Homo sapiens: one gene and its partner. The protein of the gene in region 2 purifies or fractionates together with the protein of the main gene of each other region. This does not show direct contact. Each region holds a gene or a part of one and is shown on either strand. Other genes may lie near its edges.

Region 1 (15,777 bases), on a different chromosome or scaffold from region 2:
CTTGAACCCAAAAGGCAGAGGTTGCAGTGAGCCGAGATCACACCATTGCACTCCAGCCTGGGTGACAGAGTGAGTCTCTGTCTCCAAAAAAAAAAAAGCAAGCAAATTTAAAACACCTTGGCATGTTGACAGAGACCACAGAAGAAAGGAAAAAGCTGTTTTCCTGCGAGCCCTGCATTTTCATTTTGCACCGGTCTCCCCCAGTGATGTAGGCCTGTCCTGTGCTGCACCAAGCCTGCCTCTCCCAGCAGCCCACATGCCTGTGAGAGAGCAGAGAGGGCCGAGGATGCCGTGCAGCATAGGCTTTGCCTGCACGTGGCACCTGGGTTTGCACACAATCTTTTAGCCGAGCATCGGTCTCCTCGCCTATCTAGGTGAAGAATGCTATGAGATCTCAAAGAGCTAAGTCTGTTTCTCAAAAAATCAGAAATAGAATTACCATATGATCCGGCAGTTCCACTTCTGGGTGTATACCCAAAAGACAGGAAAGCAGGGACACAAAGGGATATGTGCACACCCATAATCCTTCCCATCAGCGTTACTGACGACCACTAAAAGCCAGAAGCAGCCCAAGTGCTCAACAACAGATGAACAGATAAACAAAATGTGGTCTATCCCTGTGATGGGGGTTCTCCAGCCTTGGAAGGAAATTCTGACCCGTGCCACAACATGCATGAACCTCAAGGACATTCTGCTCAGTGAAATGAGCCAGTGACAAAAAGATAGATGTTTCCCGATTCTACTCATATGAAGTACCCAGAGTAGTCAACCTCGTGGAGACAGACAGTAGATGGGTGGCTGCCAGGGGCTCGAGGTGGTGGGGATGTTCATGTTTAATGGGGACAGTTTCCACTTTGCAAGATGAAAAGAGTTCTGCAGACTGGTTGCATACCAATGTGAATGTACTTAACACTACTAAACTGTTCTGTTGTTGTTTTGTTGTTGTTGTTGTTGTTGTTTTGGTTTTTCTGAGACAGAGTTTAGCTCTTGTTGCCCAGGCTGGAGTGCAATGGTGCTCACTGCAGCCTCCGCCTCCCAGGTTCAAGCGATTCTCCTGCCTCAGCCTCCTGAATAGCTGGGATTACAGGCACCCACCACCACGCCTGGCTAATTTTTGTATTTTTAGCAGAGATAGGGTTTCACCGTGTTGGCCAGGCTGGTCTCAAACTCCTGACTTCAGGTGACCCACCCGCCTCGGCCTCCCAAAGTGCTGGGATCACAGGGGTGAGCCACCGTGCCCGGCTGATTTTTTTTTTTTTTTTAAAGAGACAGAGTCTCATTATGTTGCCCAGGCAAGAGTACAACAGCTATTCACAGACACAATCATGGCGCACTACAGCCTCGAACTCCTGGGCTCAGGCAATCCTCCTGCCTCAGCCTCCCAAGTAGCTAGGACTACAGGTGCACACCACTGTGCCCAGCTGAACTGTACTTTTAAAAACGGTTAAGATGGTAAGTTTTACATTATGTGTATTTTACCACAACTCTTAACAATAAAATAGAAGAGCCAAATCAGCAAAGTGCTTGGCACACGGCAGGGTCCCAGTGTGGCTCAGGGGAGGTTCTTTTGCGTCTGATGATCCAGGGGCTCATCCATCTACAAAGTCACCTGTGGGATCATCGATTCATTCACTCATTCAACAGTTTCCGAGCATCTCTAAGAGCCACAGCTGCTAGGAGGCAGTGGAGGAGGCCGACCTGAGGGACTCGGAGGGCCTGTGCGAGGATCCACCAGCCCCCAAGGCTGTAGCACTGACATCTTCTAGGGGCCAATGGCTACAAGTCCTCATTCCTCAATGTGGAGAGGGTTTAGAAATGCAGAGGCTCAGGCCAGGTGCGGTGGCTCAAGCCTGTAATCCCAGCACCTTAAGAGGCCGAGGTGGGCGGATCATGAGGTCAAGAGATCGAGACCATCCTGGCCAACATGTGAAACCCAGTCTCTGCTAAACATACAAAAAGCGGCTGAGTGTGGTAGCACGCGCCTGTAGTCCCAGCTACTTGGGAGGCTGAGGCAGGAGAATCGCTTGAACCTGGGAGGCAGAGGTTGCAGTGAGCCCAGATCGCACCACTGCACTCCAGCCTGGCGACAGAGTGAGACTCCATCTCAAAAAAAAAAAAGAAAAGAAAAAGAAAAAGAAATGCAGAGGCTCGGGCCCCACCCCAGCACTGCTGGGTCAGAGACTGTGCTTTAACAAGACCTTGCAGGGTTCACAGCACCATGAGACCTCATGCTTATTAACTCACTTGACTCTGTGGGGTGTGTCTGTTAACTCCATTTTGCTGAGAAAACACTGAGACCCAGTGAGGCCACGTGACTTGCCAGAAGTCACACAGCTGGTGCACTGCATTGAATAGTGTCCCCCCAACATTCATGTCCACCCAGAAGCTCTTTTGGAAATAGGGTCTTTGCAGACATAATTAGTTGTCTGGGCATGGTGGCTCAATGCCTATAATCCCCATGCTTTGGGAGGCTGAGGCAGGAGGATCACTTGAGCCCAGAAGTACAAGACCAGCCTGAGCAACATACGGAGAATCCATCTCTACAAAAAATTTAGAACTTAGCTGAGTGTGGTGGTGTGTACCTGTAGTCCCAGCTCCCGGGAGGTCAAGGCTGCAGTGAGCTATGATCAATCACTGCACTCTAGCCTGGGTGACAGAGCGAGACCCTGTCTCAAAATAATAATAATAATAATAATAATAATAATAATAGGCTGAGCGTGGTGGCTCACACCTGGAATCCCAACACTTTGGGAGGCCAAGGCAGGCAGATCGCCTGAACTTAGGAGTTCGAGACCAGCCTGGGCAACATGGTAAAACCCTGTCTCTACCAAAATACAAAAAATTCGCTGGGCATTGCGGCATGTGCCTGTAATCCCGGCGACTCTGGAGGCTGAGGCATGGGAATTGCTTGAACCGGGAGGCAGAGGTTGCAGTGAGCTGAGATCGTGCCATACTGCACTCCAGCCTGGGCGACAGAGTGAGACTCCGTCTCAAAAAAATAATAATAATAATTAATAATAATAATAATAATAATTAGTTGGGGCCAGGCACAGTGGCTCACTCCTGCAATCCCAGCACTTTGGGAGGCTGAGAAGGGCAGATCACTTGAGGTCACAAGCTCAAGACCAGCCTGGCCAACATGGTGAAACCTGTCTCTACCAAAAAATACAAAATTAGCCGGCCATGATGGCGCACTCCTGGAGTCCCAGCTACTCACGAGGCTGAGGTGGGAGAACCACTTGAGCCCAGGACGGGGAGGTTGCAGTGAGTCGAGATCGCCCCACTGCACTCCAGCCTGGGCGATACAGTGTCTCAAAAAAATAAATAAATAAATAAATAAAATAAGTAGCTAAGATGAGATCATACTGGATTAGGGTAGGCCCTACATCCAGTATGAATGATGTGTTTATAGGATGAGAAACAGACACAAACGGGAAAACCCCATGTGCTAACAGAGGCAGAAACTGACGCGACAGCTGTAGGCCAGTGAACCCCTGCCGCCACCAGGAGGCTGGAAGGAGGAAGGAAGGGTTCTCCCCTAGGGCTTTCAGAGGCACGTGGCCCTGCCCTCACCTTGATTTCCAACCTCCAGCCTCCAGAACTGTGACCGAATACATTTCTGCTGTTTGAAGCCACTCCATTTGTGACACTTTGTTACAGGAGCCCCAGAAAACTGACATGGCTGTAACTCAGCCTCTAGGACAAGCCCCTCAGAGCCTGCCGGCCTCGGTAGCCCTCCCAGGCTGAGGGACCCCAAAGGAGTGCACGGCACCCGTGGTCCCTGAACTAGACCGGGGGCCTTCCTACCGTCCTTCCAAGGATAGCGAGCCCTCACCTTCATACGGAATACCTTCTTCCCACTCCGAATGGCGTTGTCCTCAAAGGAAAACTCGTTCTCCCGAATCACCGAGCGGCTCTCCTTGTCCCCCGTGTAGGTGACCACGTAGAAGTCGGGCGCCCACATCTCAAACTCGCGTTCCCAGTTGATGATGGTGGAGAGGGGCGCGCTAACCAGGTAGGGCCCTTTGGAGTGGCCCTGGAGAGAGAGGCCGATGCCGTGAGACCACCTGCCCTTGGCCAGGACCAGCCACCCCTCCTGGCCGCCTGCCCCGCCTGCCCACCTCCTTGTAGAGGGAGTAAAGGAACACGATGGTCTGCACCGTCTTGCCCAGACCCATCTCATCGGCCAGGATGGTGTCAGTGCCCTGGGCCCAAGAGAAGCGCAGCCAGTTGAGGCCCTCCAGCTGGTACGGGTGCAGTGTGCCGCCTGTGGAGTCGATGTACCATGGCTGCTTGTCGAACTTGACCGTGGGCTGCAGGGGAGGCAGCGGTTCAGACACGCCCCAGATCCTGGGCCACCAGAGTCCACACTACAGGCCTTTGCACATGCAATTCCTTCTGCCTGGAACACTCTTCCCACTCCTGTCTGTCTTCCTAACTCTTCTCCAGTTCTTGGATGGAACACCTCTTCCTCTAGGAAGCCCTCCCTGACTCCCAGCCTGGCTGAAGTGCTCCCACAGTGTCCTCCCATGGCAGCCCTGTACTTCTCCTATCAGGGAAATTTCCCGACTGTTGAATTCTCTGACTCTGAGCCCAGGTTGTCATCACCACCTTGGTCCTGTTCACTGCCTCCTCTTGAGTACCACACAGTGCCTGGGACATGTGGTCACTTACTCACCATTTTTTGGATGAACAACAAAACGAACATCCATCTGGGGCATTCGCAACGCCCCCAGTAACAGGCTCCTCCACTGGATCCAGACATTTACTTTTTTTTTTTTTGAGACAGAGTCTTTGTTGCCCAGGCTGGAGTGCAGTGGCACAATCATGGCTCACTGCAGCCTCAATTTCCTGGGCTCAAGGGATTCTCCTACCTCAGCCTCCCTAGTAGCTGGGACCACAGGCACACCACCGTGCCTGGCTAATTTTTTGTAGAGGTGGGATCTCACTACGTTGCCTCAAACTTCTGGGTTCAAGCGGTCCTCCCACCCCGGCCTCCCACAGTGCTGGGATTACAGGCATGAGCCACCATGCCCGGCCCATTTGTCTCTTGATCCTGCTCCAGGTCACTGGCCCCATGCAGTCCTCCCAATGGACCAGGCCCATCTGCCTTTCCCCAGCATCTGACAGGCGCCTGATAGTCCCAGGCCAGGCCCTCCGTGTTCTGTGGATACCCACCAAGGGCCCCTAGAAGACAGTGTGTCTTCTGAAACAGCTACCCAGGGCTCACTGGCCCTCGTCTCCTCAGGGCCAACCCAGGGCCAGGCGCTAGTGGACACCCAGGGAGCTCTGCTGAGTGAGTCATCCTGGGTCTCCTCCCAGGTGAGAGTGGTGTGTAAGTAGCATGTCAGCTGCAGTGTTATGAGGGGCCTTCCAGCTGTCCTAGCCTACATGGGCATGACACTGTCTGCATAAGCCATGAGGGCCCAAGGAAACATCCTTTTGAGAACACACACCCCCTGCACATTCAAGTCTGAGGTGGGCAGGCCCTGGCAACCCCACCCACTGCTGCCCCACCCTCCCCACTCACGTCCACAATGGGCGTGTCCGGCGGCTTCTCCTGCTTGTCGTCCCTCAGCTTCTTGCCCTTCTTGAGCAGCCTCTTGGGCAGCCTGGTGTCTTCTCCCAGCATCAGCTCCCTGGGAAACGGCATTGGAGGCAGGTGAGCAAGGCTCAGCCCAGGAGCAGGTCCCGGCAGCCTGTGCCTAGCAGCCGGATCCCTGCGACCCACCTGTGGCCCCAGTAGGCCTGCTTGAGGTTGTCGTAGTAGGGGATGTCGATGTCATCGATCTCCCAGGTGCACTGGTCGTAGGGCAGGTCTTTCCACTTGATCAGGTAGTGCACATCCCCCTTCTTGTCAAAGCTGCAACACGGTGAACAGATGTGGGTCGCTCAGAGCAGTGGCCACAGCACAGGTTTGATGAAGGGCACCTCCCAGGATGCAGAGCCATTCACACCCAGGGTCCCCTCGGATGCTGGGCCCAGCCAGGAGGAGGAGACGAGGGCAGAAGCTCCAGGGAGGTGCAGCGGCTTGCCTGGGGCCACACAGCGAATGAGAGGGGGATGTGGCAGAGCTGGAGAGGGACACGGAGGCCAGCTAACAGAGGAGCAATGAGCCAGCCTCCCACATCCTTTGCAGCCTCTGTGGCAGGGATGAATCCCATTTGTCACAGGGTCTGGATTTTCACAGGAGTTCTGGATTTCTAAGTTGGAAAGTTCTCCTTCCTGCCAATGGACTCAGTTTTCTAACTTAAAATACGCAAAGGACTTGTGCAGTGCCCACGTAGGGTGAGGAGTCATCTCTGCAAAGTAGATAAGGATGCAATTCCTGCGTGTGAGGTGGTCTCTTCTGGGGACACAAAGACCCAGTGACCAAGCCCAGCAGCACACAGCTTGATTCTGGCCACTGGGAGGGTCTTTAGGGCCTCCCACCCACCCAGGCTAAGGCAACCAGGCCAGAGGAGTGCTGGAGGGCCGGGCTGGGGCTTGACTACCCCACACAGCAGTGCCGAGGAGGCACACAGACCCGGTGAGCAGCGGCTGCTGCGGGCCTGGGAACATTAAGAGAAAAACCGATCCCGTTACCACGGCAACCGATGTTTGTTTGTTTTCCCATACATAATTGATTGTTTTGCAGATTGGGGGAACAAATCTGGGGGAGATTCACCTGCCCCACTTTGGGGCAGAGAGAAAAACTACCATGTATATTTTTAGCATGTAATTTAGTAAAGGTAGAAAACCATGGGCCAATTCATTGCCGGGCTCAGGTTCCCACAGGAACTGACCCTTGAAGGTCATTCTCAGGGAGGCCTGGGGAGGAAAAGGGGGGTGTCCCATAGTTGAAGGGGGGCAGTTTTTCAAATTCCGCGACCCTCGTACTGAAGACCACCCACAGCCAGCCTCTGGCAAGCTCCTGTCACCCGTGCAGCAGCCTGTTCCCTAAAAGGGCCTCAAAGCTCAGCAGATGGGAACCGGGATTGAAATCTGAACATCTGGCTCAGGCTTTTAACCTCTGCTCTACCCAACAGCTGCCTGAAGCCAGAAGCACTGAGTGTCAGAGGCCACCGATCCTAAGCCCCTCAAAAACAGAGGCCACAGGGTAGCTGGGATGGGGAGCACAAGCTCCAAGCTGCCACCAGGCAGCAGGTACTCTGGGCCCCACCCCAAGGCCCATCTGTCAGCCACCACCAGTTCTCAAGCACCTCAACTCAAGAATCAGCAGGCATTCCCACCACCCACCAAATCAAAACCAAAGCCCACGGGCCTCCTGCCTCTGGCTCTTTGTGCCAGCCTCCTGCAGCCTCTGATTGCTAAGGCATCCCAGGGAACTGCCAGACTGCTCCAGGAAGAGCTGCTGCTGGGGCACTGGGGGGTGCAACAGTAGCTAAGAAAGCAGGTCCTGCAGTCAGAAAGCATGGGGTTCAAATCCCAGCTCCACCCCGTGGCTGTGTGATTCTGGCGACTTAACCTTGCTGTGCCTATTCTCACATCAGTAAAACAGAGGTGAAAGTAAGACGCCTCCCTCCCAGGGTAGGCAGTGCTCAGTACAGCCAGCTGCTGTTACAAACGCGGGGGAAATGTGGACATACTCCCACACCTCGGGCGTCCCTCGTCCTCAGAACCCTCTTGCTGGTATCAAGCACTAACCCAGCATGAGGGTCCCGACGCCCCAGGGGTGTGAACACGTATGCATGAGTGTGCCGGCATGCATGGGACGGCCCCTCTAGCAGGTCAGGCAGATCTCCAGCACTGGGAACCCTGGGCCCTTCCTTGTGCCCCTGCTGTGCCCACATGTGGTTCTGCACGGCAGCCCCAAAGCAAGGGCCCTGGCACCCTGCGCTGCACCCATTTTACAGGGCAAAGAAGCTGACGTGGCCCGGCCCCAGCGATGGGCAGGGTGGCCGCCTGCAGGCACACACCTATGGTTCAGGATTCGGTGAATCATCATCCACTCTGGCTTGATGCCATAGCGGTAGAAGCGCTCCTCCATCTTGGCATAGAGGGGGTCCTTGTTCTTCCTCTTCTCGCTCTTGCCGTCTTCATCCCCAGAGCCGTAGTCAAAGGGGGGCGGCTCATCCATGTCGTTCTTTCTTTGGTAGTTGCGATACATCACCGTGTGGTACAGCTCCAGCTGCTCATGGAGCGGCACAAAGTCACAGAAGGGAGATGGGCCATGGTCCCCTGCATCTCCCTACCCAGCTCCTCTAGCCCCAGCCCAGGTCCCAGGCAGGACAATCCTCCCGCTCAGCACCACCCCAACTCCCAACAGCACCCCTCAGTCAGAGGCGCTTCAGCCCCTTCCCGCCAGCCCAGGAGGGTCCAGGGCTCACCAGGTCCCGGGCCTTAGCACAGCCACCCTCCCGGGCACTCACCTGTAGCTCCTTCACCCAGGAGCAATGCCAGTAGGACAGCCCTGCCCACTTGACAAAGAACTCTCTCTCAGGGATGCCCTCCAGGGGCTTAGGTGGAGGGAGGCTGGGCTCCACGTCAGGCCCCGGCAGCCCCACCATGAAGGGGGCAGGGGGCTCCGTCCACCTCCAGTGTAGAATCCGCTGGACTTTGCCCTTCAGTGGGGGGCACTGTGGACAGAGAAGGGTCCCCAAGGTGGGGCTCAGCTGCAGGGCCCCACCCTGAGGCTCCCATGACAGCAGGCTGCCATGCAGGCTCCCTCCCATCAGTGCCACTGCCCCCAAGTCAGAACAGTACCACGGTGACGCCATGACATCCACCCCGTCCCCAGGAGCCGCATGGGTCATGCACACAGGAGATGGGCAGTGGGGGTCTGTGAGACCACGTGGCCCTTTCACTCAATGGTGAACTTATCGGCACCCAGAATATCTGAGCCAGCGTAGGTGAGACTGCCATGTGCATAGGACAGAGGGGGAAACTGAGGCCCACTCGGCAAGGGACAGCAGAGCAGGGAGCAGAACATGAGATTCTGGACTTCCCCTACCTTAGGTCTTCCCATTGCCCCCTGAAAAGAGGTCACATCACTGTGTGATCCCCAAGCACTCAGGGAGCATGAGCCCTGTGCTGGAGCCCAGGGACACGGCAGCCCCATCCACCATCCCTCACCCGGGGCAGGGCTGCACCCAGGCACCGTGCGTCTAGGCTGGGACAATGAGGCCCCATCTCTGGCAGCCCACAGACACACTGCAGGGGCCCTGACAGATGCTAGGGTGACAGTGAGCTGCTGGCTGGCAAAGGCAAGAAATACAACAGCCACAAACCACACCACTCGGGCCCTGAGATGGGTGGGAGCAGCCTTGGCCCTCCAAGGAGGCGGTGCTGTCTGACTGGACAGGGTCGGGGGTGACTGATTCAGGGAGACAGCTCTGGTGGGGATAGCAGGTCCCAGCTTTGCTACTACCTGTCCTCGGAAACTCATCCAAGCCTCCAGAGCCTGCTTTCCCATCTGTAAAATGGCCCACCCCTTCCTCCACCTACCAGATCTGTGGTGCCACATCACACCTGAAGGCATTCTGGAGGTGCAAGGTACACCACACAGCCAGCCTTCCTTTGGCCTTGGTGACAGCAAAGGCCGAGAGGCAGAGGAGGAGGAGGAGGACATGGGAGGCAGGAAAGGCTCCTCCACTGGCTCTTGGGGGAGTGGAAGAGGGGACCCTTCCTACCCAGGCCATGGACCCTCCTACCCCCATCCCAGCCCCTCAGGGAAGAAGCTGAGAGGAACCCCACTCCTGCCCCCCTCCCATCCCCAGGGCCTTCCATCAATCCTAGGAAAGCACAGAAGGCTGCACCCCTCAAAAGGGTCCTCCCCTGGCCCCTACACAGACACAGACAAGTATGCGCACGGATGCACGCACACACATACACACGCACAATGCACACAGGACGGCCCAGGGCTAAAGGAGGCACAGCCCAGGACCTGAGGGGTGGAGGATCTGGCACCACAGGGGGCAGGACAGACAGCTCAGAGCAAGGGGCCTTCCGATGTCTACTGTGACTGGGGGGTGACGGATGGGGGGTGCCCCTCTTCCTGTAGAAACTGAGGCTCCCGCCCTAGGAGCCTCCTGCCCTAGAAGCCTCCTGCCCTCTCCCTATCCCCAGCCTTGGAACAGGAGCCAGGTCTGGGGTGGCTCCAGGAACCTGAATTTGAGTGGATAGTTCTGCCCTTGTGTGGCCTTAGGCAGGTCACTCTGCTTCCCTGAGCATCAGTTTTCTCATCTAAAAAGGGAGTAACATGCCTGGTGCCAGAATACTCAGTAATGTTAAAGGACACTATGATGGATGTGGAGCCCTTGCAGAGCACGTGGTCACTGAACAGTGGTCGCGGTGTTGGCATGATCACCACACCTGTCTGCCTTTCCCTAACACTCATGCCTCCCGTCTCTAGGGGAGTCAGACGCGGAGAAGGGCGCGAGGAAGCTATTGTGGACGGGGTCTCGAGCAGCGCGGGCGAAGCTTTGCGGGATCGGCTACCGAGGCGGGGCAGGAGCCGGCAGGGGCGGGGCCTTTTGAGGAGGGCAGGCCTTCCCCTGGGGGCGGGGCCTGTTCCTGGGGTGGGGCGGGGCGTCCGGCGCGGGGCGGGCGGAACACTCACAGTACAGCGCGGGCAGAGCCATTCACCGTTTGGGATCTCGGGCAGCGGCGGGTTGAGGCAATGCAGGTGGTAGGAGGAGGGGCAGGCGTCGCAGCAGAGCAGCTCGCCCCCGTCCTTGCACACGCGGCAGAACTCCATGTGGTCGTCCTCCTCCTCCTCGCAGCCGCCCTCCTCCTCTTCATCGTCGTCGTCCTTCGGCTCCCACTGGATCCCCTCCTTCTCCTGGGGGAGGAGGCCAGGTGGAGGCACCCTGGGCGGGGTCCCCGCTCCACCAGGCCCGACTCCCTCCCTCCCCTACAGCATCTCCCCGCATTCTGCCCCCAAATGAGGGCACAGGGGTGGGGGAGCCAGGCGTGGCCCCGCCCCCAGCCCGGGGCTCTGCCAAGGCTTACACAGTGGGGGCAGCTCCACTTGCCCTCGGGAGCCTTCTCCAGCTCTGGGTCCAGGCATACGAGATGGTAGGCCCTCGGGCAGGTGTCGCACAGGATGATCTCCCCACCCTGCTGGCACACCTCACAGTAATCCTGGTGGTCTGTCTCATAGCCGTCACCATCATCAACTAGGGTAGGGGAGAGGCAGTCATGGAAGTCCTCATCCACACTCCCAGCACACAACCAACTGCATCGCCCCAGGCCAGACAGGCACAGAGTAGATGTCTAATAGAGGGTGGATGGAAAGGTGGGTGGGTGAATAGACTGATGGTTGAGGTGGTAAAAGGGTGAGGAGATAGAAGATGGATAAAAGGAAAGAAGGAAGGAAGGAAGGGTAGGAGAGTGGGTGGATGGGTAGAAAGATGAATGGATAAATGGATGATGGATGGATAGACAAATGGATGGATAGATGAATGGATGGACAAATGGATGGATGGATGGATGATGAATGGACAAATGGATGGACAAATGGAAATGGGTGGACTGATGGATGGATGGATGGATGGACAAATGGATGGATGGATAGGTGGATGGAAGGATGGATGGATGATGAATGGACAAATGGACGGATGATGGATGGATGGATGGATGGACAAGTGGATGGATAGATGGATGTATAGATGGATGAATGGACAAAAGAATGGATGGATATATGGATAAACCAAATGGATGGATGAATGGATGGGCAAATGAATGGATGATGGATGGATGGACAAATGGATGGATGGATGGATGGATGGATGGATGGGCAAATGGATGAGTAATGGATGGACAAATGGAAGGATGGATGCATAGATGGACAAATGGATGGATAGATGGACAAAAGGATGGATAGATGAATGAACAAATGGATGGATGGGTGGACAAATGGATGATGGATGGACAAATGGATGATGGATGGACAGAGTGGTAGATGGATGGATGAACCAATGAATGGATAATGGATGGACAAATGAATGGATAACGGATGGACAATGGATGGATGGATGATGGATGGATGGACAAATGGATGATGGATGAATGGACAAGTGGATGGATGGATGGGATGGATGAATGGATGGACAGATGGATGGATGGACAAAAGGATGGATGGATGGATGGATGGATGGATGGATGGATGGATGGACAAGTGGATGGATGGATGATAGGATGGATGGATGGATGGATGGATGGATGGATGGACGGACGGACGGACGGACGGATGGACAAAAGGATGGATGAATGGATGGATGGATGGATGGTGGATGGATAGCTGACGGATGGATGGACAAATGGATTGATGATGGATGATGGATGAATGGCTGGATGGATGAAGGATGGATGGATAAAAAGAAGGGACTGAGGGAAGGAGGGAGAAGGAGGGATGGGAAGGAAGGTGAGGTAAAGATGGGTGTTAAGTGGGTGGGGGGTGACTGAAGGGAGGATGGCGATGAGATGAAGCACTTCCCTCTCCAGTCACCACACTGCTAATGCAAATGCCCTGGGGTAGCTCCCACCATAGGTTCCTTGTTCTTTCCTTACTGGGACAGGATGCCCCTCCCCAGACAGTAGAAACCAGGGCCGTGTGGGAAACACAGGGGCCCCACCTGGCTGAGACATGAGGATGCCCTCCCCCTGCTTCCCACGGGGAGGTTCCATGCCCCGCACATCCACCCGGCAGGCCGAGAACCGTCCAGATGGGGAGTCCTACTCGTGCCCCACTACATCCACCCAGCAGGCCAAGAACTCTCTGGAAGGGGAGTCATACTCCTCTTCTTCTTGCGCCTCCTCTTGCTCTTCTTGCCCAGGGCTGCAGAGCATTCGGAGCGCACGGAGGCACTGTGGATGCTGGCGCTGTCGAAGTCCGACTCCTCCCTCTCATCTTCTTCACTCTGCAGGGGAAGACAGGGTCCTGTGATCCCAGGGCTTCACCCAGAAGGCTTCGCTGGCCCAGGCAGTGTGGGGTGGGACAAAGCACGGAAGAGGCTCTGGAGACACAGTGCTCTCTGTGATTCATCTCAGCCCCCAACACAGCTGAAAACCTCACATTACAGCCTGCCTGTCCAGCCTGATGTCCCACCGCCTACCCAGAGCCCTGCTCTCCAGCCTCAGACACTTCCCACAATTTCCACCTCTGAACAGCTTCCCAGGCCTTGCCCTCCATCCTGCCAAACTCCTAAACATCCTTCAAGGGGCAGCCCTAGGGACACCTCCTCCAAGAAGTCTTCCCAGATCTCTCCTTTACTGGACCTACTGTGGCTGCGTGTGTGCCAGGTCTGGCCTGTCCTGTCTGACTGGTACATCACGGGCTCTCCACCAGCAAACATGCCTGCCAGGTGACGAGTGCTACAGGACCACGGCCCACTGTGGCTGAGCAGCGGGCCTGGTACACAGTATGTGCTCAACAAATATCTGCTAAGCTGAACTGGACCGTCAGCTCCAGGGCGGGCCACACCTTCTCTCCATGCTCCCCTCCAGACCTAACACTGGCTCCTGCCATGGTGCAGGGAAAGAGCTTCCAACTCCACCCACCGCAGGGCTGGGGTGAGGTGAGGGAGGCAGCTACCTGTGGGGGTGAGGAGGGCGAATGCCCCTCACACTCACAGAGAAAGGGGGGCCCCAAGGCTGAGTAAGACCTGGGCTTAGTGTCTGAGCCTGGGCCCAGAGCTGGCCCTGAGGACAGGAGGAGGTAACTGGGGCTCCAGCCAGCCTGATCCTACCCACATACCACTTCTCTAGGGTCCAGCCCCCACCCAACTACTCCCCCCGAGAGCAGACCTGGGTGCTGGGCGGCCAGGCCCCACCAGGACAGATCCCTCCACCTCCTGCCCAAATGGAGTTGCAGCTGTGGACAGCAGGAGCCAGGACTGAGCTCCCACTCAGGAGGGTGAGCCAGGGGAGCACTCCCTGCCCAGAGTCCAGGCTAGAAGGGCCCTTGGAAGGATTCAATCTAAACTCCTCATCACACAAATGGAGAAACTGAGGCCCAGCACACCTGCATGTAGGATGGAAGGAGAATAGTGGAGGGGTGCGACCTGCCCCAGCTAGTTTGTAATGAACTGAAGGCCCTCGCCTGGCCCTTGCGTGCTCATGTGCAGACACACATGCATGCAAATGCACACACACGCGCACACACGCACACACTCACCGAGGAGCCTTTCTTCCTCTTGTTGCTGATCCCCCCGAAGCGGAACTTGAGCCCGGCCGTCTTTTTCCCTTTGCCCTTTTTCTTCCCATCTTTGGAGCCTTTGATCTTCTTCCTCACTCCAGGCCCTGAAAAACAGCAGTGATGATAGCCAACCACTGCCACCACTGACGGCCTGCTTCCTGCCATCATCTCACTGAGCTCTCGGTTACCCAATAAGGAAAGGGTCATTTCTACCATCACCCCGTTTCAGATGAGATGCCTGAGGCTTGGAGAGGTAAACCCCTTGCTTAAAATCACACAGCAAGTGAGGCAAAAACCAGATGACGGCTCTGACTGGAGGCTGCCCTGACCGCCTTGCTGCCCCTTGTCCATGACCCACAGAAATGTGGCCCTTTTGGGAGGATCCCCTATACCGTCTCCAACCACTGAAAGGAGGCACTAGCCATCCCCCACAGCCAGCAGGGCCACTGAAGGCACAGCCGCCCACCTGTGGTCCATGCCTGAGCCCCCAAAGGATGTCTTGGAGCCAAAAGGCCTTTTCCCACCTGCCAGCCAGGCAATGCTGGTCCCACCCAAGACTGCCCCACCTCTGCCAGTCAACCCCAGCAAGGGCCAGCAGGGCTGAGGCTGTTTTTATGGAGCTGGCCACAGGGCAATTAGCTACCTGGGGAGTAATGACCCAAGAAGGAAGGGGGGCCTGGAGGCAGGGATGCACACCCCACAGAGGCAGCCTCTCCCCAGGCCGTCCTCTGGCCACACCACACACACGGACATGGAGCTAGGAGCCCAGCTGCACCCTCCATGGCGCCGCGGAAAATCTATTTCAATTTTCCAAGCTCTGAATAAGCAGCTCATGGAATCGATAGCTCAGCAGCTGGAGCGCGAGAGGAAATGAGAAAACAAGGCAGGCTGGGCAGACAGGGGCGGGCCAGGAGCCCCTCCCGAGATCCTGATGGCCCAGACAGATGGAGCAGGACAGGGAACAGACTCTGACCCTTGTCACTTCACCCACCAGGCTCCCTTCAGAGACTTGGCATGGTGATGCCAGACACAGAACCCCAGAAACTAAAGCTCCTTGGGGCTGAAAGAAGGGATCCCCGGAGCCCCCTCAGCCCCTTCCATCAAAACCCAAATCAGCCAGACGCGGTGGCTCACACCTGCAATCCCAGCACTTTGGGAGGCCGAGGTGGGCAGATCACCTGAGGTCAGGAGTTCTGAGACCAGCCTGGCCAACACGGTGAAACCCCGTCTCTACTAAAAATACAAAAAATTAGCCAGGTGTGGTGATGCACTCCTGTAATCCCAGCTACTCAGGAGGCTGAGGCAGGAGAATTGCTTGAACCCAGGAGGCGGAGGTTGCAGTGTGCAGAGATCGTGCCACTGCACTCCAGCCTGGGAGACAGAGTGAGAGTCTGTCAAAACAAAACAAAACAAAACAAAACAAATCAGGGCACCCAGGAAAGCTGAGCTGCAGGTGACTGACAGCCCTGGGGAGATCAACATCCCCAGCCTCCAAAAGGCCAGAAACCTGCACCCAGAAAGCTCCCTCCCCAGGGCCTTCAAGTCACAGGGGGCCTCTGCTGCCTGCATCCTCCCCACCCAGACGCCCTGCCACTGAGGCAGAATTTGGATCTCGATCTCCTTCCAGGCCTGTCCCA
Region 2 (15,777 bases):
ATGAACCTGGTTTTAAGATATTAGTTCAGGACCACATTTGGACCCACACTTTTTCCTTTTACATTTTCATATGTGAGCCACCTGCACCCTCTTTTTTGGGGGTGGGGAGGGGGCAGGAGTGACTTGTATTTTAAACAAAGGTTTGGTGAAGAAGAGGTGGGGTGGGGTGCGGTGGGGCGGTGCAGTGACCTTCTCAGGAGAGTCCTGAAGCCCCCTCTCGCCTGCCTGGGGTGCTGAGGCAGGGGTGGGTACATGGCTGTGGGCCGAGGTCGACCACCCCCCTCCCGCCCCGCCTGCTGTCTGGGCATCTAGAGAGTGGGGAAACATTAGTACGGGGCCAGCTGCGGAAGCCTGGCAGGGTCGAGGGAGAGGTCAAGGTCGGCCGAGAGGCGGCTATTGATCCGGCTTGGAACGTGAGACATGGAGCGCAGCAAGACTAAAGGGGGAGCTGTGAGACCAGACATTAACAGCTTTGCGCGCTGATGAGGCCCGTGCCAGACGGGCAGAGGGAAAAAGAGGAGACTGGAGTGGCAGCTGGGATCGCTCCCTGCCTGCGCCCGGCCGCCTCTCGGGAGAAGAGGAGGAGGAGGAGGAGGGGAAGGAGGGGGAGAAGGAGGAGGAGGGGGAGGAAGATGCGGAGGAAAAGGGGGAGGAGGAGGGCGAAGGGGCCGGCTCAAGGCTGGGCAGGGGCAGAGCAGCCTCTCCCCGGCTGCCGCGAGGTGGAGCGCGCCGGCGGGCGGCGGCGTGTCCGGCCCTGCGTCCGCCCGCCCGCGCGTCCCTCTTCCCGCCGTCGGGGCAGCGCGGGGCCAATGAGGAAGTGCTCCTCGGGTCCGTGGGGCACGCGCCGGCCCACGCCAGCTACTTCCTGCTGGGAGTGGGGAGGGGGTGCCCCCTCCCCAGGCACGGCCCCTTACCGCACGCGGGGTGGCGGCTGCAGCTGGGACTCCGAGAGCCCTTGCGCCGCTCGCGGAGGGGCTCCCTTTTCCTGAGGGGTCCTCCCCGTCCCGCCTTGCCACTGGCGGGGTCTGCCTTCCTTGTAATCAACCCCAGGAAGGTGAGGGTCGTGGGTCGGGATTTCGAGTCCCGGACCGCCGGCGGCGCTGGGCTGCAGGCACGCCGCGGTGTTTTGGGTCCAGACCTGTCCCTGACGCGCTGTGTGTCCTAGGGCAAAGTGCTCACCCTCTCTGGGCTTCACATCGCTAGTTCTCAGAAAGAGAGCGCGAGTTGATCTTTCAAATTTAGAGTCCGGGCGAGTAGGGATGGCCAGTTTATGAATGTCTTAAAGAAGTTTATTAAAGGTGCGTGTGGGCATATTTTTTTTAAGCCACTTTCCTGGAAAGATTTTCCCGGTGAGAGGGATGGCAGAAGAGGGAGGCCCTACTAGACTTTGGACCACGTGGAGGTGGGGTGTTGGGGGTGGGCAGCCGGGTGCAGCCTGCCCGGCCAGGGCGAGGAGGTGCAAGTCCGCGCCCCGCCCCCGGTCTCCATCCGCTCGGCCTCGCGTCCGCCCACCGTGGAGCCCACAGTTTACAGAACTGCAAGCCAGGGCACATTTTATTGTTATTATTTTTTAGGGTATGGGACTGGAAGGGATCTCTTTCTGTTCTCGCTCACGGACTCTGGGCGCTGTTAAATTGTTGGTGCCATCGCCCCACCCAAGACCTTCGGGACGAAAACAAAAACCCCCGTGTGCCCCCCGAGGAAAAGGCCCCGAGGGAGGCGGCGCTGAGGCGTCACGGCCTCGCCATGCGCCCGGGTGAAGCCGCCGGAGCCAGGCCTGGGGGCGGAGTGGGGTGGGTGCAGCTGGACTCGCCCGCGAAGCCTAGCCGGAGCCAGGCCCCGACCCGCCCTGGCCGCCTCCAGAGAAACCCTGAGAAGGGAGAGGAGGCCAGCCGCGTGGCGCGCCCAGCCCTGGAGGCCAGGTCATCAAATTGACAAAGTTGGCCACAGCCTGGGGAATGGGGGGTGTCCACGGGGGCCGTGGTCTGGCCTTGTCCCCGGGCCACGGAGAGGCCCCACAACTCCTCTTGTCCTCGCCGGTTGGAGATCAAACGGCTGACAAGGCAGCTGCGTCCTTCCCAGTCTGACAGGCATTTCCAAGTCCTACCCTGGGCCGAGGAGCGCGGGGGGCGGGGTGTGACTTCCAGGTTGCTGTGATTGTCAGGGGCGCCTCCTGGAGTCACCCACCCGAGTATCTGCGGAGATTTGGCCACACCTACTCCTGGGCTGGCAAGTCCAAGTCCCTCTCCCACGTGGAGCGCCCCGGTCCCTTTACCCTCTCGCTTGCCATAGACCCAGTTTAGGAGGTGGGGTCGTGTTTGACCCCAGGAGTTAATCGGGGTAAGGTGAGGGGAGGGGACAAAGATTTGAGTGAAAATCCTTTTCCAAGTGGGACTCAAACAAGGTCTCAAACACTTCTCACCCCCTCACGTGCTCTTGATTCTGTTGTCTTAGTGTCGTTTATTTTGTCATCCTCACCCTCCCAGAGTCTGTAATACCAGGATTTATATGGAGACACTTTTTGGAAGTTGAACTCCAACATCTACTCCCCTCCCCTCGCCGCCCGCGACCATAAAACAAAAGTAAAAACTACCAAGCGACTTTTCCAGGGAAACGAAGCGATTCTTACTGTCCCCCCAACTCCCATGTCGACCCCAACCCTTTTCCACAGTCCACGCCCCCACCCCCAAAGTCCAAGTCCGAAAGAGCTTTTGGGTGGGTGGAGACTTGCATTGATTCAATTTAGTTCACTCACACAGCACCCCGCCCCCCTTCTCAGGGGGTCCTGCTCCCAGGATGGAGGAGATATAAGGACGATTTTTCTTTTATTTTAAAATAAGCTGCCCAGTGGCCCCCCCCAACCCCCTCCCGCTGTTGCGCAGCCGGGGCTCGGGGGAGATGAGCGCACAAAAACGCGGTTTGCACGTGTGTCCGGCTTGGGCTGCGGGTGTGCGCAACTGGCGACTGTGTGTGTGTGTGTGTGAGTGTGCGCGCGCGCGCGAGTGTGTCTCTGTGTGTGCTTTCTTGTTCTCTTACAGGGTACAATGTTAAAAAGCCACCGCTAGTCGCCCCCAGTGCTCCGACTCTCTGGGTCTTTTTGTCTCTAGTGCAGATTAAACGTCACGTCCGCACTTGAACTTGAATTTTATCCCATTGTACAGAGGCAGCCCCAGCCATAGAGAGACCGAGAGCTCCCAGAGAACCCGGACTCCGCCATCTTCACGTTGCAATCTATAGCTCCCAGTCTGCGCCCGCACCGACCCAGGCGCACTGGGCGAGCCGCCCCTCCGCCCCGCTCCCCCCGGGCCCGCGGCGCCAGGGGAGCGCTGGGGAGCGCTCGCGGGGACTCGGCAGCCCCTCCGGCCGGCGCCAGCCTGCCAGGTGAACTGGGAAGGAGCCTCTCCTGGTGTCCCCCCAGAGCCTCGGAAGGGTCAGTCTCCGAGAAAAAACAAAAACAAAAACAAAAACAGGCAGCCCGCAGAAAACCCAGAAACAACCGAACCGGGGCAGTTTTACATTGCTTTGGGTTTTTTGAGGGGGCGGGGTGAGGGGGTACGAGACAAGTCCCCAAGTTTTCTTTGCTTTTTTTTTTCCTTTGCTTTTTCTTCTTTTATTTTTTTATTTGTTTGCATTTTTTTTCCCCTCCTGGTAGAAGTGCGCTTTCCACCTACCAGACCCTGAAAGAAAGTGTCAGGAGCCGGTGCAAAACCCAGTTTAAGTTCAAGAAGACATTTGCAAGTGCAAGAGGCCAAGCAGTTTGAAGAAGTGTAAGAGATTTTTTTTCCTTCGAAAGAATATATTTTTAAAGAAACCAGCCAGTCCGCGGAAAGCAACAGCAGTTTTTTTTTTTTTTGCCTCTTTTTCTTATTTTAGATCGAGAGGTTTTTCTTGCTTTTCTTCCCTTTTTTTTCTTTTTGCAAACAAAACAAAAAACAGCATAGAAGAAAGAGCAAAATAAAGAAGAAGAAGAGGAGGAAGAGAGGGAAAGAGAGGAAGGGAAAAAAAACACCAACCCGGGCAGAGGAGGAGGTGCGGCGGCGGCGGCGGCGGCGGCAGCGGCGGCAGCGGCGCGGCGGCGGCTCGGACCCCCTCCCCCGGCTCCCCCCATCAGTGCAGCTCTCCGGGCGATGCCAGAATAGATGCCGGGGCAATGTCCCGCCGCAAACAGGGCAACCCGCAGCACTTGTCCCAGAGGGAGCTCATCACCCGTAAGTGTCTGCGGAGTGCGCGCGAGGGGCCGGAGATGGGGCTCCGGGCGTCTGGGGCTGGGGACACCGAGCCCGGAACAGCCGAGCCTGGCCAGGCGCCGGGGCCGCCCGCTGGCTGGCAGAGTCTACGGCGTCGGCCTGGAGCATGGCGGGGGGCGGGGGCCATAGGAAAGTTTCTTTGCAGCCCGGGGAGTTGGGGCGCCGAGCAGCCGGACGCGCCTCGGGCTCGGGGGCCTGCGGAGCCGGCTCCGGGCCGGGGAGGGGGCATGCAGGCTGGAGGAGTGTGTGTGTGTGCGCGCCGAGCCCGGCTGGACGCTCGCCCCTCCGAGCGGCGTGTGTGGCGGCGGCGGCGCTGGTGGCGGGGTTTGGAGAGGAGGGGGAGGGGGCTGGGGGAGCGGAGGGGGAGGGGGAGCCGGGAAGTGGGGAAAAGTTGGCGAGCGCGTGGGTCCGCGCTGACGGCGCGGGCGGAGGAGAGCGGGGTGCGTTCCGGCTGGGGGAGCCGTAGGGCCAGGGGCGGCCGCCGGCTCCGGGTCCCCGGTCCCTGCGCCCGGCCCAGCAGGGTGCCGGCCGCGCCAGTCCTAGGATTCCGCAGCCGCCTTTCTCTCCCCTCCTCCTGCTATTTGCAAAATAATCCAGCTGCGCGGCTGTTTGCCGGGCTCAAGCCCCCCTCCCCACCCCCCACTTCCCCACCTCCGTCTGTCTCCTGGGATGATCTTGTCTTCTTTCCCCCACTTCAAAAAAGGTGGGGGGATTGGGGTTGGTGAAAAATCCCCGCCACGAGGAAAAAAAAAAAGGTTGTCAGTTAGGAGTGGGAAGAGAGTGATGCGCTTGTAAAATAGTAAAAGAAAAAAAAGAAAAAAAGGAGACCCATCAATCTCGTATCCATCTTTCTATCTCAGTATCTTTCATCTTTCCTATCTAAATAAACAAGGCAGGTCGCAGTGGAAATCCACCGGCTGAAATCGTGTCGATTTCAAGCATGTGGCTGGGCGGGCAAAGTCAGGCAGCGGGGCAAGACAAGCAGCAGCTTCCACCGTCCCTGTTGGGTTTATTTAGCAGAGGGGAAAAGCGAGCGCGAGCGGGCCAGGTACGGTGTTTGCAGGGGAACCCGCCCCGAGTCCCCGCACACTTGCACCGGGAAGGTGGCTTTGCGGCGCTCCCCGCCCGCCGCAGCCCGCGGGGCGGCTTCTTCGCTGCGCGCGAACATTTCCCCGCCGTTCTTTCTCTCGCGGTGCCTGGGTCGCCGTTCCTTTTTTTTTTTTTTTTTTTTTTTTTTTTTTTTTTTAACTGCAATAGAAATAAAACATCCTCTGGGTGCCATCGAGACCGCGGGCAGGTTATATGCTTGCAATCCGCCGCGCACCTCGCCGGGCTGGGGCCGGGCTGCCCGCGCGGAGCTCGAGAGGGCTGCGCGCCCAGTCACCGCAGAGGACTGGCTGCCGGGCGGCCGAGAGCCGAATATTTATGTTATATTTTAAAAAATTTAAATAAATAAATAAATATATAAAGTGGTTCTCCCCTCCCCTGAAAACCCAGCATAGGAGCCATCTGCTCGGAGCAATTGCTGTTGCCATCTCTCCTTTGTTACAGCAGATACATTAGTAAGAATTTGTGGATTTATTATGATTTTTTTTGGGGGGGGGGGAATAGAAATTAAAGTGGGATTCGCCTTGGGAGAGGGATGCCTCTTTGGAGGAAGGGAAGAGGACTTCTCTTTTATTTTTCGCCGTTGTAACACCAAAGAAGACTCGCCGGCTGCGTTTAAAACAAAATGTTTTGCAGCTAGATTTGAGCTTGGTTTGATCAAGGTCTTTTTTGCCAGTTGACATTTCGATCCTTTACCAAGCCACAGCAATCGCTTATTCTACACCCTTCCCCCTTTAGATGGGGTGGTTGTTAAAACGTCTATACTTGCAGAGGCTTAATTTCTCCAGGAGGCAATTTGCCCCACGTAGCCTCTGTATAATTGCAAGGGTTGTTTTTGAGGAGGGGGAATTGGGGGGGTCGGGGAAGGGGGAGTGGATGGGGGTGCACTGCCAAGCTGGCAGCAGCGGCGAGCCAGGAGTGGTTGCAGTTGTGTGTAAGGGGAAGAAGCAGGTAGGTTCGCTTTGCTTTGGCTCTCCTTCTCCTGGCATTCCTGGGACATCAGGCGAGAGCCCTGGCCAGAGGACTGGTGGCAGCTGGGCATGGGGGTGAGGGGTGCCTGGTGCAGCACTTTCCCATCCTTCATTTGTTCCCTGTCTCGCTCAGCCCTGCTCAGAGCCACGCTGGGGAAAGCCAGCTGACACTGGAGCAGTGGCAGGGAGGGAAAAAGAGAGAGGCAAAGGAGAAGAGAGGTGGAGAGAAAAAGGGGAAGGAGACCAGAGGGCAAAGGAAAGCCGGCCTGCCTTTGAGGGGCACACGGAGCCCAGGCTATGTGTACAGGTTTAAGCTAGGAGAGTGGTCCAACCAGTTTTCAGACAAGGCTATTTATTATCCAAAAGCAGCTGGCTTTTCGTCTGTCCTGTGTCACCTGGGAGGGAGGTGGGAGAGCAAGCAGGGGAAAGGCAGGAATGGGGTGCACTTTAGCCTCTCTGGCCTCTGGAAGTGCCTCTCCACAAATGATGCAGGAGCCGTGGACTCAGGGTGCTTTGGAGCCCTGGCTGGCAAAGCGGGTGCTGTCGCATCCTCTACTTGGAGTTCACATTTTAGATTTTAAATTCCAAAGATACCCCTTAAAACATGGTACATCTTTATCAGTTGGGTGGCAGCTCCTGGGCCTGTGGGGCAGCAACCTCAGGTCCTTCAGGGATGATGCAACTGCAAATAACTGATGGCCTGGGAAACAAGAGGGCACACAAATAGCACGCATGGTCTTTGTGGGTGGGTGGCGGTGGGGAGGGGAGAGGGGGGAGGGAGCGTCTGAGAAGGGCTCCATAATGAGCTAGTTAAATTTACAGACAGGGCCAGGGACAAGAGGAGTGAGGTAAAAAAGAGTGAGAGACAGCTGGTGATGGAAACCTGGGCTTCTGGTTTGCTTCAAAATGTTTGACCCAGATGGATATGGCTTTTAAAAGCAGAGGACAGACACAGCTATTAATAAAAAAACAAACACAAAACAACACAGTGGCAATCGTGCCGAGGGGAGGTTAAGGGGGATCGGCTGACCACGCAGAGGAAAGGGCCAGAGCCCGCTGTGCCAGACAGGGCCAGGGTGAAGGGAAGAGTACTTAAATCCAAGAAGGAGCTTGATGCTTTCTGAAGAGACCAAGGAAAATAAGATGTCCACGGTAAACTGCGTAACCCCAGTCAAGGTGATTTTCTCAACAACCCACCAACAGGTTTCCTAGGAAGATTAGTAATTTTCCGTATGAATTCACGATTTTGTAAAACAACTAGAGACCCAAGCAAGATTCAATGCAAAAGTTAGGCTAACTGTGTTAATTCCATGGTTACCTTTTGAATTAGGTTTTGCTGTAGCTGTGTGTTTTGAAGGCAGCGGTGCTCACAATTATCTTAACTCCCCAGGGTAGAGTATATCTCCAGTGGTCCACATGTCTTTCAGAATTGGGCCTCCGATAAATTTCATAAGACATAGCCCTCTTTTTTTTTTTTTGGTTAGTTGGTGGGGGGGGGGTGAAGTTCCTCTCCCTTCTGCACAGAAGGGAACCCCATATCATTAGAAGTGTGATATAAGTCAGCTGCTCTGATTCAATGGGAGAATAAAAACGTGTTCACCAAAGGTGTTATGCCAGGCTGATTTTATTCATTTGTAATTCACACCTGAGAGAAAACAGCCGTGAGCATATTTTAACAGCCCCTAATATTTTTAAAGGGTCTTTTTTCCCTACCTGAATGATATGATGTACATATGCATATTTCTTTTCTTTTCTTTTCTTTTCTTTTTTTTTGATGGGGAGGTTGCTATCTGCCTGTGCTTGGCCTTGGCGATTTTTTGTCTGGCCTTTGAAATATTTCATAACAGAAAACTAGGCATTTCTGAAGTGCTGGGGTGAATGCAGTTGCTTTTGTGAAGCCGGCCTTAGAGACATCGAGGCTGGGTTAGCTGGTTGGGTGTGTTGTGTCAGTGACCAGTGTGGAGGGCTAAGTGGGTCCTACTCAACCCAAGGGAAGCCCAACTTTGGGTGCATTTGAGAATAATTAGAATTGTGTCTCAGGTGAGACGGAAGCACAGAAAACAGTCGTTTACAGATACCAGTTTCTAGCGCCTTCTCAGAATGGAGTTCTTGGCACTGTCTTATAGCTTAGAACACGGCTTGCACCAGCCTTCACTTATCCCCTTTTCATCTCCTATCTCGATTGCTTTGCATTCTCTGTTGCTTGTTGTGATAAAATACTTTCCAAAATAAACTTTCAGTTGAATTGGCTTTTGGTTGATGGCAAGCTGAAACGCCGAGCCGCGCCTAGCGCCACTTGGCAGCTAGGGGGAGCTCGGTGCCCGTGTCATGGCTTGGCGCCTCCGCTACAATGGGCTAGGAACGGGCTTCCATCAGCAGCGGCGGCAGTTTACGTTGCTGCAAAATACCTTAAGTGTGAAGTTGTAATATTGATTTTCCAGCAGAGATTCGTGCAGGACAAAATGAGAATATAAGTTTGAGAAATCTATTTTCAAGCTATCGCCATTGATTTACAAGCCCTCACTTGGCAGATGGGGGCATTTTCTTTTTCTTTGATTTTCTTTCTTTCTTTTTTAACAATTAAAATTGTGAGTTTTGAATGGGTGTGTTTTCCCTGATTCGTCCGTGGTCTTGACGTTCTGAAAATTCTGCTGCGTTATTAAGGCGCTGGTGATCGGGCTGGGGAGGTCTGGGGAAGGCGTACTGCTCATTTCTGTCTTGCATGTCACAGACCCAGGGAACAGTCGAGAGTTGCTGCTTTTGGGAGTCGTGTACCTAAAACAGCTTGATGAATGGAAATCCTTTTAGCTCAAATTTTATGACACTTGGATTCTCAATTCCATTTATTAGGTAATGTTCCCACTGAACTAAGGGAAATAGCACCGTTCCCCAAAGATTTAAAATGCCGACTCAAATAACATGTAAAACTTTGTTTGGAAAGAGTATGTGATTGCTAGAGCCAGTCTTGATCACATCTTTCACCCCAAACAGTTGTCCTTTATGGATGGCTTTTAATGAGAGGATTTCTCCCCTAAACATGTAATCTAGTGATGGGGAATATATGTGCTTTTGATCATAGGATTTCTAGATTTATAATGTCTTCTTTCCCAAGTTGAAGAAATCTGCAGACTGCACCCTGAGTCTTATGCTAGAGTTCAATATATGAGCAGAAGAGGTTACCCTGCGACAGGAAAGAGTGCTTTATTCTAACCTGAAAGAGAAATAAATTAGGTCAGACAAAAGCCTAGCGCTGTCGTCAGCTGGAGAAAGAGCCTTCACTCTCCAGTACACAGGGCCAGCAATTTATCTGATGATTTCTCTACTTCATTTAATGTTTGAATCGAGCCAGTTGTAAGCATGTAGTGGCAGCGAGCTCACTGGACCACTCAGAGATGAAGAGGCACGGTGACCTCGAAGTCTTGGGCCGGACGGTGGTCTCTGAGCTGCAGAAAACCGTTAAAAATCAGTTTAGCAATCTCCAATCCTTTGCCTTAGAACTCAGGGGAGTTTCACAAGCTGTAACTAAACACAGATCATAGATAAGACAATGCAGGAAAAAATATATGGGGGAGGGAATGGGAGGGGGTCAGGTTCTTGTCCGTTGGAGACTCTCCTTCATCTCCCATGGCTTAAGGATGGACCTTCTGGCTGCCTGGTTAGGCCTCACCTTTAGCTGAAACTCTCCAAAGACTTTGGCCTCGAGGTTAATGTTGGCTTCACATCTGGGGAGGACAAGGAGAAAGTAAATGGTCTTTGGGGACTGTACCCTGCACCACATGGTTGAGTTATTGATACCGGCTGAGCATCTTTCTCTGAAGACGGTGTTAGCTGTAGATACACTTTTGTATTTATTAATGGGGAAGGGTACAGAAGACACTAGGAATGAATGTCTGTGTCATCCAGCTGCCGTGAGTATGCTTTGTCACTTTGCGGCACTCTTTTGACTCAGGCCATTTGGCCTGAGGTCCTGTGCGGCACTCTTTTGACTCAGGCCATTTGGCCTGAGGTCCTGTGTGCTCTGTCCTGTCCCTACTCCCTGATCCCACTCAGCTTCCTTCCGGTCCCAGGGAGCCAAATGTCAGGGAGATGTGCTCAGGCTCGGTCCCCCTCTTGCTCCATCCCTCCCCAAGAAACGCCGTGTGCTGACTGCCTCCCTTGAGCAAGTATGTTTCCCAGGGCGTGGGTAAAAAGTGCCGAGAGCAGGCTATTTGGAGACGCGTGGAAAGAGAAGGACACATTTCTTGCGTCTTCTGCACAAGCCAGTGAGGAGGGTGAGCAGAGCAGCCTTGTTTTTTGCTGGCAAAAGTGACACTAGATGGAGGCTTGATGAATGGTGCCACATTCACGGGATGTTGGTCCAGCATTTTGACATATGCTAGTCTTTTGTGCAGTTGCTGAAAATCAAGAAATTCATTCTTTTTTCTTTTTCTTGTGGCAGCTGATAATTTGCTTGGGTGTTGAATAGCCAGCCTGAGCTATTTTACTGTAATGAAATCCCAGACCACACAAAATTAAGTCACTTCAAAGTAAAAAAAGAAAAAAAAAATCCTCTCTTTTACATAACTTCTTTTTTATGGCCCCCTTCCACTTATTTTATTGAAATACAAATAAATACATTTGTGAAATGTTCTAATGAGTTTTCTACTAAAACAACACGCAGAAATGACTCAAGAAAAGTTGAGTGCCAATATTATTGTGATTAACATGTGCCTCAGAAATGGATGCACTGCTAAGAATTAAAAAAAAGGGGGGGGGCGGTGTCATGTTTAAATTCCTACCTTGGAAAAGAGATGTCGAAAGCACTCCTGCCCTTGCTATTTGCTGTTGGCCTCAGATAATCCAAACTCCTCCAGCTAAAGCCTTGAGGTCCAGTGTCCTGTGTGGAAGCCCTTCTTTTCTTCCGCACCTTTGAAAAAAGCATAATGTTAAATAAAAACAAATCTCTTCATTTGCCCACAAAGAGTGCTTTTTTATCACATCGTTAGGAGCCCGTTGTGGCTCTGAAGATTGAAGGCATTTGCAGTTTTATAGAACCTGCTAAATGTGTTGAGAAGGATTGCTATTGTGGTAAATCTTTTCCTTTTCTTTTTCTTTAAAGCGCCTATTTTATTTGTCAAGACTTTTATTTGTAACCTTTTAGTAATGGCTGAGACCTGTGAATATACCTGAGTATGTTTTCCTTATTCACTTGTTCTTTTTTCTGCTCTTGTGCTGGGGAGACCCAGGCTCCTGGGCTCAGTTTTTGGGGTTCTGGAGAGGTGTGTGCATTATTCTTTTTTCTGCTCTTGTGCTGGGGAGACCCAGACTCCTGGGCTCAGTTTTTGGGGTTCTGGAGAGGTGTGTGCAGTGGGGGAGAGAAGGCGGTTGGACTCCATAGAGCAACTGAGGATATTTTTCAGGGAGCTGCTTAAGCATCCTAAAATTAGGCTGGAGTCCTGCAAACAATCTGTACACAGGGAGACCCTCCCCAAACATTCGACTTTCCCGCCTGGAGTCTGTAGACCAGAAGGTATGGGAGTGAGCCTCTTCCTGCATCTAAAACCTCTTCACGGATCTGGAGTTTCCACCTCCTGGCCTGCAGGCCAGGCCCAAAGTTTCCGCTGCTGGCGGAGTCAGCGGGACCCTGGTCATTTTCCTGGGAAGCCCACACTGGGAAGCATGTTTTGCACCGGCCGCCTTCCCTTGCTCTCCCTCTCACATGTCAGAAACGGCGATCGAGGTGTGTGCCTCAGCTGAGGAGGGGCAGACAGGACCTCATGGGGTGGTGGCTGTGGTATGTATCTGTCCCTCCAGGGAGGCAGCCTTTGGAGGGTGTCAGGAGGGTGCAGAGCTGACCTGGAGCAGGCTGGACTCCTCTGACTGTCTGCTGAGAGGGTCGAGGGTCAGGACAGAGAGGTGTGATCTGGGTCTTGCTTCCTGCTTCAGACTCCGCCTGGCTGTGCCTTCCCAGGGTCCCCACCCCCAACTTGTGTCCTAATAACCCTTCGAGACCCCCTGTGGACATCCTCCTGACACCAGCCTCCCTCTTATCTCCATTTCCTTCTCTGCCAGGCACTTCATTATTCCCTCCGTTAGGGGAACTTCATAAAATCTCTTGTCGTGCCTTTAAGCGTCATCTAGTCATAGATTATTTTCTCCACCAAGAATTGATTCCTGCTCTCTCCCCCTCCACCCTTCTCCTCCCCCCTCCCTACGGTTGTTATTTTCTCTTGGATCCAATAAATTAAAAATGGATGGCAGCTCAGAAAGTGTTGTGCTCCGTCGAGTGTGCGTGTGGTGGCGTTTCCGTGTCGCCTGGAGTCCCAGCCCCTCCCCAAGTGTTCACGGAGAGGAGATGAAAAGATCTCTTCGTAGATTATGGGTAAGCATGGGCTCGCTGGCAAGAGCTCCCTCTTCGTAGGAAGCAGGTGTAAAGTCTCCAGTCGGATGCAGAGCTCGGGCGGATGGATGCTGAACATTTCTTGTAAACATGCGTACACATCATGATGGCGGTTGTGACGTTGGTGGCACACGATTTTAAGAGCCTGGGACCCATCCCCCCACATCCTTCCCTTTCCCACCCCCGTCATCACTGAAACAATAATTCTGTGTATGTTTCTCCTGGACTGTAGCTTAGCCATTAAAGATAAGAGAGTTGGATTTGAATTAATGCAGGGTAAGGAGGAGCAGCAGCCCACGTACTGTGTATGTAGCAATGCACATGTGTGTGTGCAGGCAGCCACGCACATGCCTGTGCTCTGGGGACAGCAGGCAGCAGACCTCTCGGCTGGAGTTCCCCTAAGGGCAGGTGCATGGGCAGTTGTTAGAGATGGGCCAGGGAGGGCGGGGTCCTTGGCACCCTGTGTGTGGGGGAGTCACTGGCCAGGTAAGGCCCTGCTGAAAGCTTGCAGCTGCTGGGGGCTTGTTGGCTGCTTGGCTGGGCCTGTGTTAACGATGTCTTTCCATTTCTTTCTTCTGACTCAAATTCCTTCCCAGCAAAGCCGAGGCATGGGGAAGTTTGTCTTGGGATCAAGTGCTTCCCCTTTCACTTAACAACGATGTCCATTATTATTTGTGATTGCTTCTAAATGCATTTACCAGCTGGGAGGAGGCCTGGCCTTGTAAATAAAATGTGGTTTTGTTGTAAAAGAAAATCTAACTCGTGTGTTTGTGTGTGTGTGTGTGTAAATACAGATTTGTCCCTGCACTTTAGGATTTAGCATTTCAGAATCCGCCTCAGCCCTCTGATATCTGCCTTTCGAACAAGTTGTCTGCTGCATCCATTCATTTTTCCTCTTAATGAGTCAAACATTTCAGCAATTGCTCTACTTTATTCGGCTCATAATATATTGAGAGCAGCAATATTCTGCAGGGCTGCCCGACACTTGGGGAGCTTTTCATGAAAGCAGAGATCATCTCAGAGGAAAACCTCATCTTGGCTTTATTTTTTTAAGGCCCGAGTTTGCTGGACAAGGCTGCATGAGGGGCTGGCCTGTAGGGTCTGGGAATTTGAAAGACTGTTTTCATTGGTCTTTTTCCTGGTGCTTTTTCGTCTCTGGGTGGCAGGTTGGACCACTCTGCCTGTTAGAACAGAGGCCTGGCTCTCTGAGGCTGTGCAGAGCCGGGAGACTCAGGTGTCCATAGGGCAGAGAAAGAGGGGTGTCACTTTGCCCTTCCCAGGGCTTGGCTTTCTCCTTTTATTTCTTCCATTATCGATACAGTTCTAAGGAGGGACACATGCACACATATGCAGGCACCCTACACGCCTAGCTTGGTATCTGCCTGCCAGCGGAAGTGAAACCACAGTCTTTGGGGGTGTCTACAAAGGCCTTGAACGTGAGCTTTCAGGCCCACTTGGTCCACTTACTCTGACCCAGAAATTTGGGGCTGGGGGTGACTCTGCTGCCTGATGTTGAGGGTGACCTTGCTACCTTCCTGGGAAGTGTCGCACACAGCAGGCCAAGGCACAGCGCCACAGCCTGGGTGGTGGGGAGAGGAAACCCCGTTCTTTGGAATCGGGTGAACACCCTGTCATCTCAGGGGTTTAACTTTCAACGCTGAAAGTGGGAGGGGAAGGAGATATTTTTTGTTTGTTTCTTTTCCTCCCAGACTCCCTTAGAGGCAGTGAGTTGGATCTCTGGTCTGGGACGTGGAGATCCCAGCTCAGAACTGAGCCCTGGAGGCCTGGATAATCCCGGGGCTGTCTCGGGGACGCCAACAGGGCCTGGCTCCCAGGTTGGTTGGCTGTTAGGACTTGACGCAGAAATCAGAGCTGCAGCACAGCAAACGGCTTTGGACACCTTCAAACTCAATTACGGGGGCTCGCAGGGCTGCTGCATGAGGAAAGTGAAAAGGCAGAGACTGCCAAAAAAAGGAAAGAATACCAGATGTTACCAAAAATAAAAAAATAAAAAAAAGAGGAGAGAAAGGAAAAAGTGCTGGTACATAGTCTTGGCAAAAGACGAAGCTGAGGAGGAGGGGTGCTTGCGAACAGGCACGTGTGACCTCTGCTAATTTTTAAATTCATCTGTGTTTCTTTTGAATTAGAAAATGAGTTTGAAATTATGTAGTTGAAAACCTCCTAGCAGAGAGGAGATATTTAGGCTTGCTAGAACTCCTACTCAGGAGGGCGGACGAGGCTGAAAAAGTTAATAAAAAAGCAAACAAAAAAGTAAACCGAAGATTAAATTAAAAAAACCAAGAAGACCTCTTCGCCCTCAGAAAGGACGGTCCAGCTGGCCATGTGGATTTGTCGTTGTACGTTTTTATCAAATCTTCCACTGATGCAGGAGTTTGCCAGGCCTGGACAGGGTGGTATTTAAAATAGTACCAGGTACCGCACCTCGCCCCTGTTTCCTTTGAATTCTCAATTTCATTATGTCCTTTTTTGCTTTTCAGCTCATTTCTTTTGTGCCTCTCTCTCTATTTTTTAACAAAACAATATTTTGACATCCTCCTCCCATTTATTAGAGCACCTTCTGTAAAAATGGCGCACAATACATCCTTATATTTCTAAAGAACTGTTTTTACAGTGCTCTCCTTTGGCTCTGAAATTATGTATATGTAATTGGTAATTAAAGGTGCGAGCTTTTCAATATAAACAGTATTGCTCAATGTTAGATCATTAAAGGGAAAAAGAGGCACCAAATAATTACCTTTTACATTCTGACAAACCGTTCACAGGAATCCAGTCTTCCCTAGAACCTCTGTTCGGTGGGAAGGTTGTGATTACATTTTAACCATAGCAAAGCATCTTTTCATAAAATAAATTGGTAAATTAATTACGTGGCATTGTCTTCAAACCCATTTTTAAGTAAACTCCTATTTCTTTCTAAAGTGTAATTAATGGTTTCTGGGACCGGCTTTGTGAGGACTGTTTCTTTACCTTGTAGGTTCTTTTTCTTAGAGAGATGCAGACAACAGATTTAGGATTTCCTCGTCTGCGGGGCGTTTCTGTACTGCCACATTTCTGA

What was found.
Region 1: the proteins of BCL11B (region 2) and CHD5 purify together in Homo sapiens (affinity purification with mass spectrometry; 2 studies listed by BioGRID and IntAct, with this or other methods). This does not show direct contact.

Annotation. Positions count from the first base shown.
Region 1 is NC_000001.11:6,138,293-6,154,069, forward strand, and holds part of CHD5 (chromodomain-helicase-DNA-binding protein 5), read right to left. Parts: intron 14,245-15,777; coding exon 14,120-14,244; intron 12,864-14,119; coding exon 12,740-12,863; intron 11,121-12,739; coding exon 10,954-11,120; intron 10,784-10,953; coding exon 10,562-10,783; intron 8,580-10,561; coding exon 8,373-8,579; intron 8,132-8,372; coding exon 7,920-8,131; intron 5,864-7,919; coding exon 5,732-5,863; intron 5,640-5,731; coding exon 5,531-5,639; intron 4,314-5,530; coding exon 4,122-4,313; intron 4,037-4,121; coding exon 3,836-4,036; intron 1-3,835. UniProt on the Homo sapiens protein: ATP-dependent chromatin-remodeling factor that binds DNA through histones and regulates gene transcription. May specifically recognize and bind trimethylated 'Lys-27' (H3K27me3) and non-methylated 'Lys-4' of histone H3.
Region 2 is NC_000014.9:99,259,592-99,275,368, reverse strand, and holds the start of BCL11B (B-cell lymphoma/leukemia 11B), read left to right. Parts: upstream 1-3,171; 5' UTR 3,172-4,150; coding exon 4,151-4,208; intron 4,209-6,268; exon of another isoform or gene 6,269-6,305; intron 6,306-15,777. UniProt on the Homo sapiens protein: Key regulator of both differentiation and survival of T-lymphocytes during thymocyte development in mammals.